Homo sapiens: one gene and its partners. The protein of the gene in region 5 purifies or fractionates together with the protein of the main gene of each other region. This does not show direct contact. Each region holds a gene or a part of one and is shown on either strand. Other genes may lie near its edges.

Region 1 (4,181 bases), on a different chromosome or scaffold from region 5:
CACTTGAGCCCAGGAGTTTGAGGCTGCGGTGAGCTGTGATCATGCCACTGCACTCCACCTGGGCAACAGAGCAAGACCCTGTCTCTTAAAAAAAAAAGAAAAAAATAGAACTGCATCTGTTAGATGAGATGTGAGAGCCTATGTCAAGCATGATGTAGTCTGTAGGACTGCGTCTGTCAGGTAAGGTTCCCGGAAACCCAGAGCCTTTCCAAGTGAGTGGCCCCACCGGTCATCTCATTGCCCAAGCCAGAAACCTCTCGGCCACACTGGAGAGCTCCCAGAATGAGTCCTCTGCACTCCCCAGTCCATCTCCGGGGCTTCAAAGTGGCTTGTTTGCTTCTGTCCTTGTCTTAGCCGCAGACTGTTCTCAGTCCTCCCACCGTGCCTCTCAGCTTCCACCCTGCGGTCCCCACCCCTTCCTTTATCCTCTGGAAGGTGCTATGCTTCCCCCTGCCTCAGTGGGCTTCCAGGAGAGAATTAAGCCCTCACAGCCCAAGGCATCTACTGGATGTAATAAGTGGGCACCTCTCCTTCGTGTCTAGAAGGTTACTAGTCTTGGACCATCCTTGGGAGAACTGAGAAGTCACTCAGATCATTTTCTGTGGGCCTTAATTCTGTCACGCTTGAGAAAGACTGCTTTGGCCACGGGACCTTTGCATGTGCTGTTATGGCTGCTGGAATGCTCCCTCAGTGCTTCTCTGGGTCATGCCTGCTCGTTCTTGAGATCAAGGGTCAAGTACCCCTCAGGTTCCTTTTATAAGTGGCCTCAGCACCATGTTCCAATTTCTCCTCAGCACTTGTTTCTCAGTTTCACATTTATTGGCATGATTATTTGATGTACGTCTCTCTCCCACACTCTGTGTCCGTTGCCTGTGCTAGAAATGTGGGAGGTGCTCCATAAACAGCTGTTAGGAAGACATCCGTGAAGTTCTGAGGACTCTGATGGCACCAAGTGGAGCTTGCAGGTGTGGCTTGAGAAGGTGCAGTGTGAATGATAGGCCTAGGTGATAGGCCGAGAAGATCGGTCAAGCCCAGATATGACCCACTGGGCCTGTCAGTGTCCAGGAGGTGGGGTGAGGCACAGGTCTAAGGTTCTGGATCTGTCAGTACCACCTGAGGAGTTGGGAATGGGCACAGGTACAAAGTGATGAGTCTTCATTGTTCAACAAAGAATGGCACAGGTGTGAGGATCTGGGTTTGTCAGTATCTGAGGATGTGGGGCCTGGCACAAGTATGAGGCACTGGGCCACTGTTCAAGCAGGTGGGCTGGGGAACAGAAATGTAGCTGTGGGTTTTTAATATCTGAGGAGACCTAGCCAAGTGTAGCAGAGAGCTGCTGGGTCTTTCATTGTCCAAGGAAGCATACCTGGGCACAAGTATGAGACTGAGAAGGTGGGTCCTGGCACCGGTAAGGGGCTCTGGGTCTGCAAGTGTCTATGGAAGTAGGGCCTGGTACAGGTATGTGGTGCTGGAAGAGGTATCCAAGGAGGTGGGCTAAGTACAGGTATGACATCTGGGTCTTCCAGTGTGTGAGGAGGTAGGATCTGGTACAAGTATGAGGCCCTGGGTCTGCTGGTGTCTGAGGAGATAACAGCAGGTTACAGGTATGAGGCCCTGGGTCTGCTGGTGTCTGAGGAGGTAACATCTAGTACAGGTATGAAATCTGGGTCTTCCTGTGTCTGAGAAGGTAGCACCTGGCACAGGTATGAGGATCTGGGTCTTCCCAATGTTTGAGGAGGTAGCATCTGGCACAGGTATGAGGATATGGGTCTTCCATGTCTGAGGAGGTAGCACCTGGCACAGGTATGAGAATCTGGGTCTTCCAGTGTCTGAGGAGGTAGCACCTGGCACAGGTATGAGTATCTGGGTCTTCCCGTGTCTGAGGAGGTAGCACCTGGCACAGGTATGAGGATCTGGGTCTTCCTGTGTCTGAGGAGGTAGCACCTGGCACAGGTATGAGGATCTGGGTCTTCCCGTGTCTGAGTAGGTAGCACCTGGCACAGGTATGAGGATATGGGTCTTCCATGTCTGAGGAGGTAGCACCTGGCACAGATATGAGGATCTGCGTCTTCCAGTGTTTGAGGAGGTGAGTTTGGACTCAGGTTTGAGGCCCTTGGGCTTCCAGTGCCTGAGGAGATAGCATCTGGCACAGGTATGAAGCCCTGAGTCTTCTAGTGTCTGGGGAAGTGAGGCTGGGTACAAGTATGAGGATCTGTGTCCATCAGTATCTGAGGAGGTGGGATCGGGTCCTGGTATGAGGATCTGGGTCTGTCCATGTCTAAGGAGGTAAGATCTGGCCCTGGTATGAGGATCTAGGACTGTCCATGTCTGAGGAGTTACCATCTGGTACAGGAATGAGGATCTGGGTCTGTCAATATCAGAGGAGGTAGGAATCTGGTACAGGTATGAGGATCTGCGTCTGTCAAAGTCTGAGGAGTTACCATCTGGTACAGGAATGAGGAGATGTGTCTTCCAGTGACTTAGGAGGTACGATCTCTTATAGGTATGAGGATCTGGGTCTGTCAATGTCTGAGGAGGTAGGATCTGGCCCTGGTATGAGAATCCGGGTCTGTCCATGTCTGAGCAGGTAGGATGTGTCCCTGGTATGAGGATCCGGGTCTGTCAATTTCTGAAGAGGTGGGAATTTGGTACATGTATGAGGATCTGGGTCTGTCAGTATCTGAGGAGGTAGGATCTGGTACAGTTGTGAGGATCTGGGTCTTCGGGTGTCTGAGGAGGTGGCATTTGGCACAGGTATGAGAATCTGGATCTTCTAGTGTCTGAGGAGGTGGGATCTGGTATTAATTATGAGAATCTGGTTCTGTCAGTGACTGAGGAGGTAGGATCTGGCATAAGCATGAGGATCTGGGTCTGTCAATGTCTGAGGAGGCAGTATCTGGTACAGGTATGAGGATCTGGGTCTGTCATGTCTGGAGGTAAGATCTGGCATGAGTATGAGGATTTGGTTCTGTTCATGTCTGAGGAGGTAGGATCTGGTGCAGGTATAAGGATCTGGGTCTTTCAATGTCTGAGAAGGTAGGATCTGGTACAGGTGTGAGGATCTGGGTCTGTTAATGTCTGAGGAGGTAGGATCTGGCACTGGTAAGAGGATCTGCATCTGTCAGTTTCTGAGGAGGTAGGATCTGGCCCTAGTAAGAAGATCTCAGTCTGTCAATTTCTGAGGAGGTTGGATCTGGCCCCCTTATGAGGATCTGAGTCTGTCAATATCTGAAGAGGTAGGAATCTGGTACAGGTATGAGGATCTGTGTGTGTGTCAGTGTCTGAGGAATTAGGAATCTGGTACAGGTGTGAGGATCTTCATGTCTCTGTATCTGAGGAAGTAGGATCTGATACAGGTATTAGGATCTGGGTCTATGTCTGAGGAGGTAGCATCTGATACAGGTATGAAGACCTGAGTCTGTCAGTGTCTGAAGTGGTTGGATCTGGCCCTGGTATGAGGATCTGGGTTTGTCAGTATTTGAGGAGGTAGGATCTGTCCCTGGTAGGAGGGTCTGTGTCTTCTAGTGTCTGAAGAAGTAGGATCTGGCCCTGGTATGAGGATCTGGGTCTGTCAGTATCTGAGGAGGTAGGATCTCATACAGGTATGAGGATCTGGGTTTTTCAATGTCTGAGGAGGTAGGATCTGGCACAGGCATGAGCATCTGGGTCTGACCATGTCTAAAGAGTTGAAGCTGTGTGCAGGTATGAGGCCTTGGGTCTGCCAGTGTCTGGGGAGGTGAGGCTGGGCATGGGTGTGAGACCCTGGGTCTGTCCATATCTGAGGAGGTAGGATCTGGTATGAGTATGAGGATCTGGGTGTGTCCGTGTCTGAGGAGGTGGGCCCTGGCACAGGTATGAGGCCTGGGGTCTGTCCGTGTCTGAGGAGGTGGGCCCTGGCGCAGGTATGAGGCCCTGGGTGTGTCCGTGTCTGAGGAGGTGGGCCCTGGCACAGGTATGAGGTCCTGGGTCTGCTGGTGTCTGCAGAGACAGGGCCCGACATCTCAGGGAAGACCACGGTAAGCTCTTCAGTTTGTCTTGTGGCTGTGGTCAGTCATCTGTAGTCTGCCCTGTTGGTCTTCCCATGTGTTGCCAGCACCTGCCTGCTGCCTTGCTTCCTGGAGGTGGGTTGGGCCAGGGCCCTCCGAGACGCCCCTGTGCAAGACCAGGGACAGGGTTTCCGG
Region 2 (4,181 bases), on a different chromosome or scaffold from region 5:
CTGGCTCTTTTCTTTTTTATTCTTCATCTTTCTATTCTCATTGCCACTTAATGTAGACCTTGGTATTCATTTCACCTGGTCTCCTTGCCTTCGTTCTTGCCTCAGTTTCTCCTCTGCCTTGCTGTCATTTGTCTCTTTGGCTTCACTACGCTGCTGTTTTCCTTTTGTTGCCAAGTCCATGTTTTGGGACACTGACATGTATGGTTATTGACCTGGCCAAGCCTTATCCTCCGCCTTGACACCACACCCCTGTGTTACATCCACACCATAACGCTTTGCGGTTTTTCAAAAACACCAAGTTGTTTTATATTTCCATGTTCCAGGGGTCCTTGTCATTTGATGAATTGTTAATCCCCAAATCTCAGTAAGAATGACACCATCTTTATGAATTCTTCCCTGATCATACTCTGTACAAAAGTTTCCTTCCCTGGGCTCCAGAACACCATGTATGCGTCAGCTGCCACTGGGTCGTGTTGTGTTTGTATGTGCATGTCATGCTGCTTTTCTGTATGGGAATCTCTTCCTTTCTATCTCTGTATTTCCAGTGCCTCGTTCATGGTAGTTACCTAGTAAAGGCTGAGCTAGGAAATCATCGCCCTGTAGCTCGTTCTCTCCACGTATATTTATTCCTCAGTGTGTACATTTCTTTCTTTCTTTCTTTTTTTTTTTTTTTTTTTTTTTGAGACGGAGTCTCGCTGTGTTGCCCAGGCTGGAGTGCAGTGGTGTGATCTCGGCTTAGTGCAACCTCTGCCTGCCAGGTTCAAGTGATTCTCCTGCCTCACCCTCCTGAGTAGCTGGGATTACAGGTGCCCACCATCACATCCAGCTAAATTTTTTTTTTTGTATTTTTAGTAGAGACAGGGTTTTATCATGTTGGACAGGCTGGTCTTGAACTCCTGACTTCTGGTGATCCGTCCACCTCATCCTCCCAAAGTGTTGGGATTATAAGTGTGAGCTGCCACACCCGGCCTAGTTTGCACATTTCTGTTCTTAATTCTTGCTGTTATTCTGTGGTGAGAAGAATTCAGGGAAAAGGGGTCAGGTCTGATGGATCCCTTATTTTGGGCCCCTTCCCTTGCCCCTCACTTTCCCGGATCTCTCTCTTGACTTCATGGAGCTTGCTAAAGTTTCCCGAAGGACAAAGGAACAGTGGTCAGTGTTGAGACCCCATACCAACTCCTGTTCTTTCCCCAGCTGGACGAGTTCTATATTGGACAGATTCCACTGAAGGAAGTGACTTTTGCAAGGCTGAATGACAACGTGCGGGAGACCTTCCTGAAGGATATGTGCCGTAAGTACGGTGAGGTGGAAGAGGTAGAGATCCTCCTTCACCCCCGTACGCGCAAGCACCTGGGCCTGGCCCGTGTGCTCTTCACCAGCACTCGGGGCGCCAAGGAAACGGTCAAAAACCTCCACCTTACCTCCGTCATGGGCAACATCATCCATGCCCAGCTTGACATCAAAGGTGAGGACTCCTCTGCCTGCCACTCAGGCTTGGCCTCCAGCGGAGGTTGTACATGCAAATGCCTGTCAGGGTCAGGCAGGCGCCCAGGGTCATGATCTGAAACTGCTGGGGCCAGTTGTGTTTCTGAAATCAGATCAGATTTTAGAGTGGAATTATGGTACATGGATTTTTGTGTGTGTGGTGTCTCCAGCAAGGTCGGGCAATAGGCCATAATCAAGCACATAACTATCTGTAAAAAAAAAAAAAAATCATATGAAGGGTTGTACTAGGTAAGATGAATAGATTGTAGTAAATCAGCCCAGGTCAGGTTGGTTGCTTGGTTGGTTTTTGAGACAGGATCCTGCTCTGTCACCTAGGCTGGAGAGCAGTGGCGTGATCTTTCCTCACTGCAGCCTCCAGCTCCTGGGCTCAGCCACCCCAGCCTCCTGAGTAGCTGGGATTATGGGCATGCACCACCACACCTGGCCAAAGTTTTTTTGATTATTTGCAGAGATGAAGTCTCACTACACTGCCCAGCCTGTTTTTAATTTTTTTTTTTTTTTTTTGAGATGGAATCTCAATCTGTCGCCCAGGCTGGAGTGCAGTGGCACGATCTTGGCTCACTGCAACCTCCACCTCCCAGGTTCAAGTGATTCTTCTGCCTCAGCCTCTTGAGTAGCTAGGATTACATTTATGCGCCACTACGCCCGGCTAATTTTTGTATTTTTAGTAGAGATAGGGTTTCACCCTGTTAGCCAGGCTGGTCTTGAACTCCTGACCTCAAGTGATCTGCCTGCCTCGGCCTCCCAAAGTACTGGTATTACAGGCATGAGCCACCATGCCTGGCCTCTTTTTAATCTTTCTATATGCTATTCTATAACCCATATAGGTTTTGGTGCCAGATTCTCAGAAATACTGGATTTTCTGGGTTTTTAGGTTTGGAAATTTGAGATAGAGAGTAAAGGAGCTGTGAACACAAGCGAGGTGGTCTGGGCTTCTGTGTTGAGTGATGGGGAGCAGTGGGGTCTGTGGCGAGCTGCAGATTGCAGTATTGTCTGGAGGAGGCAGCCATTAGTAGGCACTGGCCAGTTTGCAAGTGGAAATGAGGTTTAACATTCTTGAATTTGGTTTGTAAAAGAAAGCCAGGGCCGGGCATGCGGTGGCTCACGCCTGTAATCCCAAGACTCTGAGAGGCCAAGGTGGGCAGATCACCTGAGGACAGGAGCTCGAGACCAGCCTGGTCAACATGGTGAAACCCCATTTCTATTAAAAATAACAAAAATCCGGACGTGGTGGTTCATGCTTATAATCCCAGCTACTCGAGAGGCTGAGGCATGAGAATCACTTGAACCTGGGAGGTGGAGATTACATCGTGCCACTGCACTCAAGCCAGAAATTTGGGTTTTTGTGTGAAATCTCATGGTTTTTAAATACCATGTTTCTTTCCTCACAAGGTGTTTCTGAGGTGTTCACTCCACAGCTCCTGCAGGCTCCGTTAGTCCCCCGGTTGCTGTTCTGCATGCTTTAGTTTACAGGATAAAGAGCATGGGGTGATCGAGCCTCTGGGTTTGAATTCCAATTTTTCCAATGACCAATTCTGTGACTTTGTGTAGGTCGCTTTTAAGCCTCTAGAACAGAGGTACTGATGCTTCCCTTCTGGTGATCCAACATGGTAAAATAAGTAGAAGTGTTTTTGATAAATCGTGAAGTGTCATAAAATATGTTGTTTGTGGTAGTTTAGAGGTAGAGATAAGGTAGAAGGTCCCAAAGGTAGAGTTATGGTAGGAGAACTGAAATCCTGAAACCCAGATTCCAAGAAATTGTAGGAAACTTGAGGCCTGAGAAAGCAGGAATACCAGATCAGGAAGGAGTTAGTATCTCCATCTGACAATTGGTTCCCATTTCCCTCCCTCCAGGACAACAACGAATGAAATACTATGAACTAATTGTCAATGGCTCCTACACCCCTCAGACTGTGCCCACTGGGGGCAAGGCCCTGAGTGAGAAGTTCCAAGGCTCGGGTGCAGCCACTGAGACGGTGAGAAGTTTGTGGCTACCACAGCCCCTAGCCATGTGGGCATGGTGTCCGGGTGCCCGGAGCAGGAGCAGTCTTCGGGAGGTTCCGGGCTTTCCCGTTAAACAAAGAAGAGCCAAGCAAAGCTGCTGAGATGCTTTCAAAAGACAGGGAACTAGGGGCCAGGCACAGTGGCTCACGCCTGTAATCCCAGCACTTTGGGAGGCCGAGGCGGGTGGATCATGAGGTCAGGTGATTGAAACCATCCTGACTAACACGGTGAAACCCCATCTCTACTAAAACTGCAAAAAATTAGCCAGGCATGGTGGTGGGCGCCTGTAGTCCTAGCTACTTGGGAGGCTGAGGCAGGAGAATGGCATGAACCCGGGAGGCGGAGCTTGCAGTGAGCCGAGATCACGCCACTGGACTCCAGCCTGGGCAATAGAGCGAGACTCCGTCTCAAAAAAAAAAAAAGGGAACTAGGATTCCTGGTTTGGGAAAGGGCAGGTCTCAAGTGGTGTTTGAGCCCATTCCTCTCTCCTTGCCCTGCTCTGTCGCTCTAGGCCGAATCCCGCCGCCGCTCTTCCTCTGACACAGCTGCCTACCCAGCAGGCACCACTGCGGTGGGCACTCCTGGCAACGGCACCCCCTGCTCCCAGGACACAAGCTTCTCCAGCAGCCGACAAGATACCCCATCTTCCTTTGGCCAGTTCACACCTCAGT
Region 3 (4,181 bases), on a different chromosome or scaffold from region 5:
CAGCCAATGTTTTCTCCAGGTCTTTTCCAAGAATCTTTACCCCCTGAGCTGCTTCTACTTCTTTATGCTTTTCATACTGGTTCTACAGAGATAAAAACATTTGTTACCAAATGTACTTTAAAAGTGGTTAGCAGTAGAAGATGATATAAGAGAATCTCATCATGATATTAGAGAGAGGTTTCTTAAACGAGGCACAAAAAGCAATAATCACAAGACTGATAAATTTAACATTAAAATTAAATATTTCCATTTCTCAAAATACCACAGGAAAAAAAAAGTCACAAGAGTAGAAGATATTGCAAAACACACCAACTAACAAACCGGTATCCTGAATATATAAGCGCATATAAATCTGTAAGAAAGATAATGCAGAAGAAAAATGTACATCTCACGAAGGAGGAAATAAATGGCCAATAAACATTTTTAAATGACCAACCAGGTTAACAATTAGGCAAATGCACACTGAAACGGCAATGAGCTACACACTTAGCAGAATGGCAAAAAAAATTTAAAACCTAACATCCAAGAACTGATGAAGCTGTAAAACAATGAAACTAAAATACTGCAGTTGAGAATATAATTTGTTACACCCACTGTAGACAAGTGTGGCCTTCACTCCTAGGTATACATACCCTGGGAAACTGGCACAAACACATCAAGAGATGTTCACAGCAGCAGCATTATTAGTAACAACAAAAATCAAAAACTGGGCCGGGTGCGGTGGCTCACTTAGGGAGGCTGAGGTCAGGAGTTCGAGACTAGCCTGGCCAACACGGCAAAACCCCACCTCTACTAAAAATACAAAAATTAGCCGGGTGTGGTGGCGTGCACCTGTAATCCCAGCCTGGATGACAGACTGAGACTCCATCTCAAAATAAAATAAAATAAAATAAACATAAAAAACTGGAGATCACCTACATTTCCCATCAACAGAACAGATAGATATGTTGTGATATAGTCACACAATGGAATAGAAATCTTAAAATTATATACTTTTTTTTTTTCACTAAAGGAAGCCAGATATAGGCCAGGCATGGTGGCTCATGCCTATAATCCCAGCACTTTGGGGAGATCAAGGTGGGTGGATTGCTTGAGCCCAGGAGGTCAAGACCAGCCTGGGCAACATGACAAAGTCCCATCTGTAAACAAATTAGCCAGGTGTGGTGGTGCGTACCTATAGTCCCAACTATTCAGGAGGCTGAGGTGGGAGGATCACCTGAACCCCGGGGAGGTTGAGGCTGCAGTGAACTGTGACTGCACCACTGCACTCCAGCCTGGGTGACAGTGAGAGCCTATCACCAAAAAAAAAAAAAAAAAAAGAGCCAGCTATAAAAGTACACACTGAGAATAACTCCATTTCTACATAAAGTCTACAGACACTTCTAAGGGAAGTACTCTTAGACACAAAAACAAAGCAAAGCAAGGATATTTGTTACTGTCATAAAATGCAACCATGGTTAACTCTATGAAAGGTCAGGGGGTAGGAGGGGAAGGCAGGGGAGTTGATCAGGAAGAAGCACACAGGAAGCTTCTGGGTGCCAGCAGCGTTCTGATTCTCCATCTGGTTGCTTCCCAAAAATGTGTTAAACTTTTCTTCTATGTTGTGTGTACTTTTCAGGAGCAATGTTTTATTTCACAATTAAAAATGTTAAAAAACTACAGCTGACCCTTGAACAAAATGGGCTTGAACTGCATATGTCCACTTATACTCAGATTTTCTTCTGCCTCTGCCACCAAACACAGCAAGGCCTACCCCTCTCCTTCTTCCCTCTCAGCTTACTCAACATGAAGATGAGAATGAGGACCATTATGATGATCCACTTCCACTTAACAAATAGTAAATCTATTTTCCTTATGATTTTCTTAATCACGTTTTCTTTTCTCTAGCTTGTTTTACTGTAAGAATGCAGTATGTAATATATAAAACATACAAAACATGTTAGTCGACTGTGTATGTGATTGGTAAGGCTTCTGGTCAATGGTAGGCTATTAGGAGTTAAGTTTTTGGGGAGTCAAAAAATATATGTGGATTTTCAACTGGCCAGGGAGTCAGTGCCCCTAGCCCTCATGTTGTTCAAGAGTCAACCGTATTTAGCAGTGTAGAACCATAACAGTGTAGTTTAGAATCTGGCAAAGGCCCAGTCTGGTAAGCAGGTACTTTCACACATCTCTACTCTGACAGACAGGCCTTCCTGTATGATGACAACTAAAATAAAAGGGAGAGCGAGGGATGTATGTGTTCTGTATTAAGTCAAACAGCTTTCAAAGTGAGGAAACCATCTCAGCAGAACTTCTAAACACTGTACAAGTCCCCACGTGTCAATGCTTCCCACCTCAGCATACCTTCACTCGTAATTCCTTCATAGGAGGAGGTAACAGGAGGCCTCGAATCTGAGTTACAATGGGCCCTTCTACTCCAGGAACAATGATTGTATCTCCTTCCTTCAAACGCCCATTGATCAAGATGACATCTATAGTGGTGCCCATCCCCGGGAGAGCTTTAACCTAAAAGGCATTAATGCAAAGAGAAAGACATACATACAATGCACCATGTTCATTAAATCTAAAAGTAGTAAATATCCTCCACTCAAGGAACTTGCTATTTTTAAAAAAAAAAAAAACAATAAACTGAAAAGTTGATCATTACCTCCATCACCTGTGCTCTCAGCTCTTCACAGTGTGCAAGTCTCTTGCTCAACATGGTCTGAGTTAACTCTACAAGAAGGTAGATCAGACTTCCCATGCCATCACCAGTATGTGCAGAGGTAGGTACCAAAGACACAAAAGTGCGGGGATCTTTATTCTCATAAAACAAAGCAGCATTCAAACCCTAGGAGCAAAAATCATCCAAAATGCCAGGCTGTAAAGAAAACGTATCTGGAATAGGTGTGCCTCACTAGAAGCCGGATGAGCAAATGGCTCATCATTTTGAAACTCCTCATAAACACTAAAAATGATCATGTATATCCTATAAGCATTAACTGTATTATAGCAAAGTAGTTCTAAGTCAACTCAGTTTTCTAAATTAAAGTATTCAGACTGCAAAGAAAAAGGAGAAAAGGGAAGAAGAATTTAAAAAAAGTAATTGCTGTCAACAGAGGAAAAGAACCAGTATTAATGAAAATGCTGACTTCATTATAAAGATAATATAATACATATTCTGAGATAGGCTCTTCAGAAAGAAGGAAGGCCTTCTTACCTGCTGTGCAAATTCTACAATAATAGCCTTTGCTCGCTCCTCAAATTCATCTTTTGTATTCTTTTTCTGCTTCTTTAAAGTAGCAGCCACATCAGAGTCAGGACTCTTTTTCCAATCATATAACCTATCAATCTGAAAAAGTTTTTTCATGAGAAAGATCTCTAAAAAATTCAGAACATTCAAGAACTGTATTAATAGCTCCAGAAAATTCCTCATGTGTGTCTCATATATACAGAACAGTGTGACTTACTCATACACTTTATTGTACCAAAAGCTCCTTTCAGACTGCTTATCGGCACCTGCTCTTAAATTAGAAACTGCTGTGGTGCCATGCTGCCCCTGTCAGCCTCCATGAGTTCCTAAGTGGCTGCCATTTGTTTGCAAAAGATAACATCCTAGAATTATCCTAAGACTATTAATGTATATTGTTGGAATTCCGAAACAGTTTTTGTAACAAATCAATCAATCCCAGCAAGTACCATCACTATAAAATTATATACCAAAAAATTAAAAAATATATATTTTCTAAGGGAACAGCCTATTTTAATTATTTTATTGCTCAAATTAGGATTAAATCTGTTTTGTTAATGACAGAATCTATTTTCCCTCACTTTTCAACATGAGAGATAAATGAGCATAGAAGAAATGAAAAATACTTGCTAGCCAAACAAACAATCAAAAGCATAATCTGTCTGGGGACAGAGTCTAGGGTGACAAAATAAAGAATCAGACGAATCTGAATGCTACTAAGGAGACAAATCAGTAGGAAATGACGAAGATGTTAAAATTAGCATATGAGGTCCTTAGAATATTTATAAACATGCTCAACACCTTTAAAGGAAAAGCCTGAAGCTTGTAAAGCTAAATAATAAAAACATGTCTAACTAGTAATTAGAAATTAACACTTTTAAATGCTTATATTAGAAAAGAATATCAATAAAACCAAAAGCTAATTCTTTGAAATAATCCAATTCCTGCACAT
Region 4 (4,181 bases), on a different chromosome or scaffold from region 5:
AGGTTCAGTCATGGGCCATCAAATGATGGAGTGTTCTAGAAAGACTTCTCATCATAATGGTTAAAATGAAATGTTTTAAAGTCAGCCTCGTGGAAAATTCGCTTGAACATTCCATTGCCTGACAAATGCTGAAATACTGGCAAGTGTGAACTAACATGGCAATGTGCTGTCTTAATTTCTCCTTCGAGGTGCATATCACTAACCCGACACACATAGTTACATTAGAAGGACCCACGTCCTTCTGTCTTCTTCTCAGCAGCATTGCTGAATAGCCTCCTGCTCTTAATATGGCATTTAATTTAGCTATCTCAAAATTAATTTCTTTTATATGTGTGTGTGTATATATATATATATATATATATTTTTTTTTTTGAGACACTGTCACTCTGTCACCCAGACTGTAGTGCAGTGGCGTGATCACAGCTCACTGCAGCCTCGACTTCTCAAGGCTTAAGGGAGCCTCCCACTTCAGCCTCTTGGGTAGCTGGGACCACAGGCACACCCAGCTAATTGGAAAAAAAAAAAAAAGGGTTTTTTGGTAGAGATGGGGGTCTCTCTAGGTTGCCCAGGCTGGTCTCAAACTCCTAAACTCACAGGATCCTCCCGCCGCAGCCCCCAAAGTGCTGGGATTACAAGCATGAGCTACCAGGCCTGGCCAATTTTTTACCTTCTAGCCACATTTCTTAATTATATGGCTATGAAGTAACTGAGCCATTCCTTTTAAAACCAATGATTCAGCTACATGTCCTTTCAATCTACCCAATCTACAGGAATTCACCTGGTTAAAAAGCCAATGGCAGGGCTGGGAACGGTGGCGCACACCTGTAATCCCAGCACTTTGGGAGGCCGAGGCAGGCAGATCACAAGGTCAGAAGTTCAAGACCAGCCTGGCCAACATGGTGAAACTCTACCTCAACTAAAAATACAAAAATTAGCCGGGCACGGTAGTGCATGCCTGTAGCCCCAGCTACTTGGGAGGCTGAGGCAGGAGAACTGCTTGAACCCGGGAGGTGGAGATTGCAGTGAGCCGAGTTCGTGCCACTGCACTCCAGCCTGGGAAACAGAGCAAGACTCCATCTTGAAAAAAACAAAAAAAAAACAAAAACCAAAACAAAAACAAAAAAAACACAGGTGGCAGTAATACTCCCGCAAGTAGATACTGTTTCTCCAAGCTACAGCTTTTATGGTAATTCCTAGTGGTTTTAGCAGAAATAACCAGCCACACCACAAATAAACTCCCTGAAATCTATTTTGTTAAATGCTGTGGAACTACAGGGAAGCCACTTTGTGGACTAAGAGCAGCTTCCTAGTAGAAGGCAGGTCTTCAGTAGGACTAAGCAGGACGGTGGTAAGAAAAGTTCTAGCTGGCTACACTTGAGGCACCAAAAACGCCATCCATGAACATTCTCTGGCTTTGAACCCAAAAGCACTTTTTACTTCATTTGAGTATGAATGGATACATTTTCAATCGCTATCAAGATTCTTTGTCAGGCCCGACGTGGTAGCTCATGTCTGTAATCCCAGCACTTTGGGAGGCCAAAGCAGGCAGATCAAAAGGTCAAAAGATTGAGACCATCTTGCCCAACACGGTGAAACCTCGTCTCTACTAAAAATACAAAAATTGGCTGGCCATGGTGGCATGCACCTGTAGTCCCAGCTACTCAGGAGGCTGAGGCAGGAGAACTGCCTGAATTCAGGAGGCGGAAGTTGCAGTGAGCTGAGGTCATGCCACTGCACTTCAGCCTGGCGACAGAAAGAATCTGTCTCAAAAAAAAAAAAAAAAAAAAAAAAAAAAAAAAAAGATATGTCAGCATTTTGAGACAAGCAAGTATCACAGGCCTCAGTAACAGCCTCTTTCATGGAACTCACCTTTGTCACATGGTATTTACTGACATGGGGGGCAGGAGTAAATGTTTATTTTCCCACAGTTTTCTTATCAACCTGACACCCCCATCCCCACCCCGCAAGCTGCATTCCCTCTCTTCCTGCCAAGGGGTAGCAAAATACTTGGAGATTCCTCTTTTGTCTTAGCTTAGGCCAACTACTCACCCAGTAACCAATAAACGCTTTGCTAATCTCTTACATTCGGATTGATGTGTTTGTTTCCAAGACAGAGTCTTGCACTGTCGCCCAGGAGGGAGTGCAGTGGCACAATCTTGGCTCACTGCAACCTCCAACCTCCACCTCCCAGGTTCAAGCAATTCTCGTGCCTCAGCCTCCCAAGTATCTGGGATTACAGGCGCCTGCCACCACCCTGGCTAATTTCTTTGTATTTTTAGTAGAGACGGGGTTTCGCCATGTTGGCCAGGTTGGTCTCAAATTCCTGAACTCAAGTGATCCACCCACCTCGGCCTCCCAAAGTGCTGGGATTACAGACGAGAGCCACCGCGCCCGGCCTGATGTGTTCTTTTTCAGGCACTCAGATAACTCAGTTCCCTTGGTCCTAACTAAGCTGAAGGTCCTCCTGGTGGCCTTGGACAGCTGGGCCACACCTTCCTCTGCCGTCTAAGTGCCAGCACCACAGCTTAATCAGACGACAAACATGTCATGGACGCTACACCTCTAGCGTCATCTCAGCAACACAAAGAGCTGTTTCACAGACAGAGTCGCAACTGACCAGCAAGTACTACTCCCCTCCACTCTGAAAAGAACAGCCGGAGAGCACCAGAAATTCACCTGAATTCTCCTGAAGGGTGCAGCACACAAGACACGGAAATCAAACAGCACAGGCTCCAAACAAAGGGAGAGCAGAGGGAGGAGGCAAAACCCGTCAACAAAACGAAGTACTGAAGGGGAGGGCGCAGCAGGCAGGCACCACCTACAGGAGCGGGGTCCAGGTGAGGCTCTTTTTGGAAGATGAAACAAACTAGCTAGTACTTGAGCCCTGAGCAAAGTGAGGAAACCAGCTCTCCCGACCTTCCTGGTGCTGGCAGGGGACCTACTCTCACAACTCTGATTTCCAAGACAGGAAGTTCCAGCAAAGGCTCCAGCTTACAGAGAACAAAAAGGCCCAAGATCTTAACGCCTGCACCAACCAGTCCTATCGTGGTTGCCTCAGTCATGTTCTGGCAATTTCACGAAAACAAGAGCATCTGGCATGACCAGGAGACTGGACTCGGCACCCTTGGTGATTGTGGCAGTCACCTCGTCATGCAAAATGACCAACCCGTCACCGTACCTGCCTGACCACAGAATCACGTTTGCTTTGGGAGACTGCGTCTGCTGTTGATCTTTCCAGGTCTTCCCTCTCCTTTAGGAGGCGGCCTCATCCTTCTACTGGCACATCTGACACTTCTGACAGTTGGAGCTCTGACGAAAAGCTCTCATGGTGGGCCACGTGGCTGGGCTCCCCACACACCAGGCCCAGGGCTGGCTCTGTGACTGTCCTGAGGAATGCAGGATGAGGCTCCTACGCACAAGCTTATATCTGACAGAAAAGACACAACTGCTAGCCTCATTCACCATCACTCCTGCACACTCCCGCAAGTCTTTCATCAAACCAATTATTCAGAGCTATCTCCTTACCCTTGCACCTGCAGCTTTCCAGACATGGAACGTTCCTCCCTCCCCTCCAGTGAAAACAGCCTTGGACACTCGGCCCAAATCGCTCCTCATCTGTGAAACTTACCCTGGGGCAAGCAGCTCTTGTTTCTCTAATGTGCTGTCCAGGCCACCAAGATGGCCCTGGTACACTGCTCAGCAGCCACCTATGACTCCAGACAGCAGGGTCACATTTTCTTTGACGACTCGGGGGCATTGGAAATGTATTTGCTGAATAAACTGTTATGGGCAAAAATGACAAATATAAAGTCCACAAGCGGATATCCTAGCCCACCCCTCACAGAAATATTCTGAGGGTAGGCCAGGCGCAGTGGCTCACGCCTGTAATCCCAGCATTTTGGGAGGCCAAGGCTAGTGGATCATGAGGTCAGGAGTTCGAGACCACCCTGGCCAGCATAGTGAAACCCCATCTCTATTAAAAATACAAAACCTAGCTGGGTGTGGTGGCATGCGCCTGTAGTCCCAGCTACGTGGGAGGCGAAGTCAGGAGAATCACTCGAACCCAGGAGGCGGAGGGTGTGGTGAGCTGAGGTTGCACCACTGCACTCCAGCCTGGGCAACAGAGCAAGACTCCGGCTCAAAAAAAATCAAATAAGATATTCTGAGGGCAAGTGACAGGG
Region 5 (4,181 bases):
GAGAGAACCACCATGAAATAGCTTAAGTAAAAGACCCTGGACCCAAAGCCCTGGACTCCATATCATCTATCAACAAGGGCATAGCCAACTGAAACTGTCTTTTCCTTTTATGTACAATGTATCTACTTAGGTTGAACCACAAGGAGATAACAAAGGAGCAGTATTACACCTTTATTACAACTGGGGTTAGCAAACCTAGATCTACTTTGGCCCAAGTACTGAGTGTTTAAAGTGTCCAATGGATCTATTATTAGTTATACTAACATTTAAGTAACCGCACAGCTTTCTTCCTTGTGTGAGTTATATGGATATGTTTGAAAAAAATAGGAACATCAGGTACTTACAGATTAAACTAACCTGTACTGGCAGGGCTGTGGGATTTTTCTTCTCTACCAGTAAGTAGCAAATGCTGAAATTCTGCTGCTAGTTAACAAAAACACAAATTGTATTAAACTGAGGAGTTCAATCCATAGTTTAAAAAGTCAATGTGCATTAAATTTCCTCAGAGCCTGATACTAATACATTTAAAACTTTTCCCTAGTTTTTTTTTTTTTTAAACAGAAGTTACCTTATATTGGCTATTTAGAATGAGCTAATTAACATTGAAAATCTCTTGGACACATCTCAATTTTACTATGTATTCCAGTATGTGAACTGTGATAGAAATTTTGATTACTCTAAAAAGGGGATGGGCATATATCTTAAACATGTGGGAATTTCTAAATTTAAACGAATATGTAGACATACCCCCAAAGACAAGCAATTTTTAAAAGTTTTTAATTCAACTTTTGTAAAAATTGATTTTGTCACATCAGAGATTCTCAATTTTAAAAACATGTACTGAGAAGCAAATTCTATTGTTTCTCTTTGAATAAGCGAACAGGTAAAAGGGGGCTTTGCTCAATAACTAGATGCTCTGTATTTTTTCTAACTCAGACTTACAGTAACTGTAGTAACTCTTCCCTTGCTCCACTTGGGTACTTAAGCAGCCTCATTTTATTAGTAAAGACTCGGATATGATGGTGCAAATCTTTTTTTTTTCACCTCTGTGACTGCTAAACTATTTATGAATAAAATTTTAATAAGAAGCTACATTAAAATACTATGGTGAGACCTCACTAACAAATGCAAATCATGAGCAAGAATGCCATTACTTTTCAATATATTTAAGGTTCTTAAGTCAAACAATACTACCCAGTGTTCTCTCCCAAATAATCACTATTGGTCCATGTGTAGTAAACTGGGAAAATATCATTCTTCATTTTTATCCAAGTTGGCCATCAATGAATTTCACTGTTAGTTCCTCAGACTTAACCAATGGTGAAGGAACACAGATTCCACCATAATAGTAAAATGCAAACCAACCAACCCAGACACTAACAATGTCAGAGGGCTTAGAAAATGCCAATAAAGTACTTCACCTTTTTACAAACACAGCACACATTACTGAAGCTGTGCCAGATTACTACCTTATAGACCATTACATCATTTAGAATTAATGGGTGGGTTCCAAGTAATCAACCATTAAGACAGTTTACTCACATGTACCTCCTCTGAGGTTATTTTGATAAAAATTAAAACATAAACATAAACATTCTCATAACGGATTGTATGCCTCTTAAAGAACCTAACCATCAAAGTTTCCATCTAATTAGCCAGTCTAGATTTATAATAGTGTTCAATTTGCTTCAAATAGGAATAGTTCAAATTAGTTTCAGCGAAGACCTACCTTGTTTGGGCTACAAATTTCTGCCTCAATATGACTACTACTTCCGCTTAGTAAAATAAAGACATTTTCCCCTGAGAATACATGAGACTAACTGAACAGATTTAAAGAGAGATGATTCAGATTTCTCAAACTAATTTAGTTCCAAACTATTATTTTCCAGAGTTAAGAAAATGAAAAGCTTTTCAAGACTAAAATATTATGCAAAAATGTATAGAGCCAAGAGCAAGAAAAATATACTTATTAAAAGCAATTATCTTACTGAAGAATTTTTTTAATGTTACTTTAAAACGTAATCTATTTTCTAACAAAAATGCCAGGTAAAAAAATAAAGATAGATGTTTTAGGGCTTAAACACTTGGAAAAGGTGGATATATTTAAAGTTATTGGGAAGCGCAAACTGAAGTCCTACTTTCTCCATTTCCTACATATTGGTTTGAATTAGATCCATAATAGGGTGCCTAAGAGCTTAAGATAGTAGTTTAGAAAACTCAGCACTAATCACAAAATTAATGAATATCCATTATGTACATGACCATACATCAAGTGCTTATTTTGCCAAGAAACATCACACAGAAAAGTCAGATGATTTCTTTGCTATAAAAACAAAAGGTTATTATTTAAATGATTCAATGACAGAAATTAAAATACTGAGAAAGGGTTTCTAAAAAGGAGTAAACTTTACTGTCATGAGACAGTTAGCATAAGTGGAATTGGGGGAATGTTTACTTATAAAAATCTGCCCTATAGTCAAATAGCCTTATAATTGAATCCCCTTTTAAAGGACTTTTACATAAAAGTTACAATGAAGAGCAAACAAATTTCAATTTGGAATAACGCAGAAAGATTACTCAATATTAGGTCAATAATGACAACCTTTTAAAAAAGACATTCATGTCTGTATAATTTTAGAGTATCTACTTCTAGGGTACATGTCTATTTTCATCAGCTTATTCAAACAAAATTTTGACTCAGTTAAAGTGGTGACTTCACAATTTTCTTTCATTTGCCAAGTTTTACTAGTGGATGTTACAGACACCTAAAAACTACATAATTCTCAAAATCTTATTTGTCTGAGTCACAGAACTACAAAAAAAAAGGAACTATCTTAGTTATCTATAGATATTACCTTCAACAGATTATGACATTACTAAATCCTTCCCACCCCCAGTACTCAACCAGATAAGAGCCTGTATTTCCAGCACACTTTTTTCAATTATCACCATTAGAATTAAGATAAGCAACTTAGAAAGATTTCAGCATATTGCAGGATGGTAGGTAATAGAGAAAACAGATCTCCAATTAAGGACTCTTAAATGTTGATTACTGAGGTTATAAAATAGTCCAATGGGATATTTTGTCATGGAAGCAACAAAATTCTTTAAATATTAAAATCCTATTAGTTATAGTGAAAAACATGTTATTTAACAAGTCAAAATTTACAATTCATTTAATGCATATTTTTTCTTTATGCTTCCAAGAATGAAAACCATATACAAACAATTCCAGGTTTGCTAAATGCTATACTGCTTGTTCATTGTTACTGCTCAGAGTAAACTGCTATCTGGATAGAATCGTGGCTCAAACACAAGAAACAAAAGTAATTCAGGTTTGTTTTTGGCCTCTCTTCCAATTCCCTAATTATTCCCTACAACAAACACACGCACACAACTTTTCTCACCAAATAAAAGCAAATTTTAGTTGGAAACAAATGTGGATACTTTTCACATGTGCGTAAAACACTGTTCAGTGAGGCTGAAAATGAACCTCAAAATAATCACTCCAAAACCATAGTTTAACATACTTTACCACAGGATCAGGTATCAAATTTCAGTTTCGATACCTGAAAATTAGTAATCCATCCATGCTGAAAGGTCTGTAACACCCAAATTCTGTTGTTATATCAACTATATGGTCTATACCCCCACATACACAAGCACACACATAGACACCACCTTCCCACCTTTACAGGGCTCTACATTAACATTTGCTCTAATGTGGTGAGGCTTGAAAATATTTTAAAATTAAGCATTTCCAGATGACCTTTTAGCCTTAACATTCAATGCGTAAGTTTGTGATTAAGAATGCAGATTTTGGCCAAGCGCGGTGGCCCACGCCTGTAATCCCAGCACTTTGGGAGGCCGAGGCAGGGGGATCGCAAAGTCAGGAGATCGAGACCATCCTGGCTAACACGGTGAAACCCCGTCTCTACTAAAAATACAAAAAATTAGCCGGGTGTGGTGGCAAGCACCTGTAGTCCCAGCTACTCGGGAGGCTGAGACAGGAGAATCGCTTGAATCCAGGAGGTGGAGGTTGTAGTGAGCTGAGATCGTGCTACTGCACTCTGGCCTGGGTGACACAGCGAGACAGTCTCAAAAAAAAAAAAAAAAAAAAAAAAAGAATGCAGATTTTGGCCAGGCGCGGTGGCTCACACCTGCTACTCCAGCACTCTGGG

The links.
Region 1: the proteins of ZNF207 (region 5) and GPI purify together in Homo sapiens (affinity purification with mass spectrometry, with the first as the bait; one large-scale study listed by BioGRID). This does not show direct contact.
Region 2: the proteins of ZNF207 (region 5) and SETD1A purify together in Homo sapiens (affinity purification with mass spectrometry, with the first as the bait; one study listed by BioGRID). This does not show direct contact.
Region 3: the proteins of ZNF207 (region 5) and EIF5B purify together in Homo sapiens (affinity purification with mass spectrometry, with the first as the bait; one large-scale study listed by BioGRID). This does not show direct contact.
Region 4: the proteins of ZNF207 (region 5) and TRAP1 purify together in Homo sapiens (affinity purification with mass spectrometry, with the first as the bait; one large-scale study listed by BioGRID). This does not show direct contact.

What each region holds. Positions count from the first base shown.
Region 1 is NC_000019.10:34,389,007-34,393,187, forward strand, and holds part of GPI (glucose-6-phosphate isomerase), read left to right. Parts: intron 1-4,181. UniProt on the Homo sapiens protein: In the cytoplasm, catalyzes the conversion of glucose-6-phosphate to fructose-6-phosphate, the second step in glycolysis, and the reverse reaction during gluconeogenesis.
Region 2 is NC_000016.10:30,960,073-30,964,253, forward strand, and holds part of SETD1A (histone-lysine N-methyltransferase SETD1A), read left to right. Parts: intron 1-1,194; coding exon 1,195-1,465; intron 1,466-3,360; coding exon 3,361-3,482; intron 3,483-4,021; coding exon 4,022-4,181. UniProt on the Homo sapiens protein: Histone methyltransferase that catalyzes methyl group transfer from S-adenosyl-L-methionine to the epsilon-amino group of 'Lys-4' of histone H3 (H3K4) via a non-processive mechanism.
Region 3 is NC_000002.12:99,388,868-99,393,048, reverse strand, and holds part of EIF5B (eukaryotic translation initiation factor 5B), read right to left. Parts: intron 3,332-4,181; coding exon 3,200-3,331; intron 2,831-3,199; coding exon 2,648-2,830; intron 2,506-2,647; coding exon 2,344-2,505; intron 83-2,343; coding exon 1-82. UniProt on the Homo sapiens protein: Plays a role in translation initiation.
Region 4 is NC_000016.10:3,710,519-3,714,699, forward strand, and holds part of TRAP1 (heat shock protein 75 kDa, mitochondrial isoform 1 precursor), read right to left. Parts: intron 1-4,181.
Region 5 is NC_000017.11:32,374,157-32,378,337, reverse strand, and holds part of ZNF207 (BUB3-interacting and GLEBS motif-containing protein ZNF207), read right to left. Parts: 3' UTR 1-4,181. UniProt on the Homo sapiens protein: Kinetochore- and microtubule-binding protein that plays a key role in spindle assembly. ZNF207/BuGZ is mainly composed of disordered low-complexity regions and undergoes phase transition or coacervation to form temperature-dependent liquid droplets.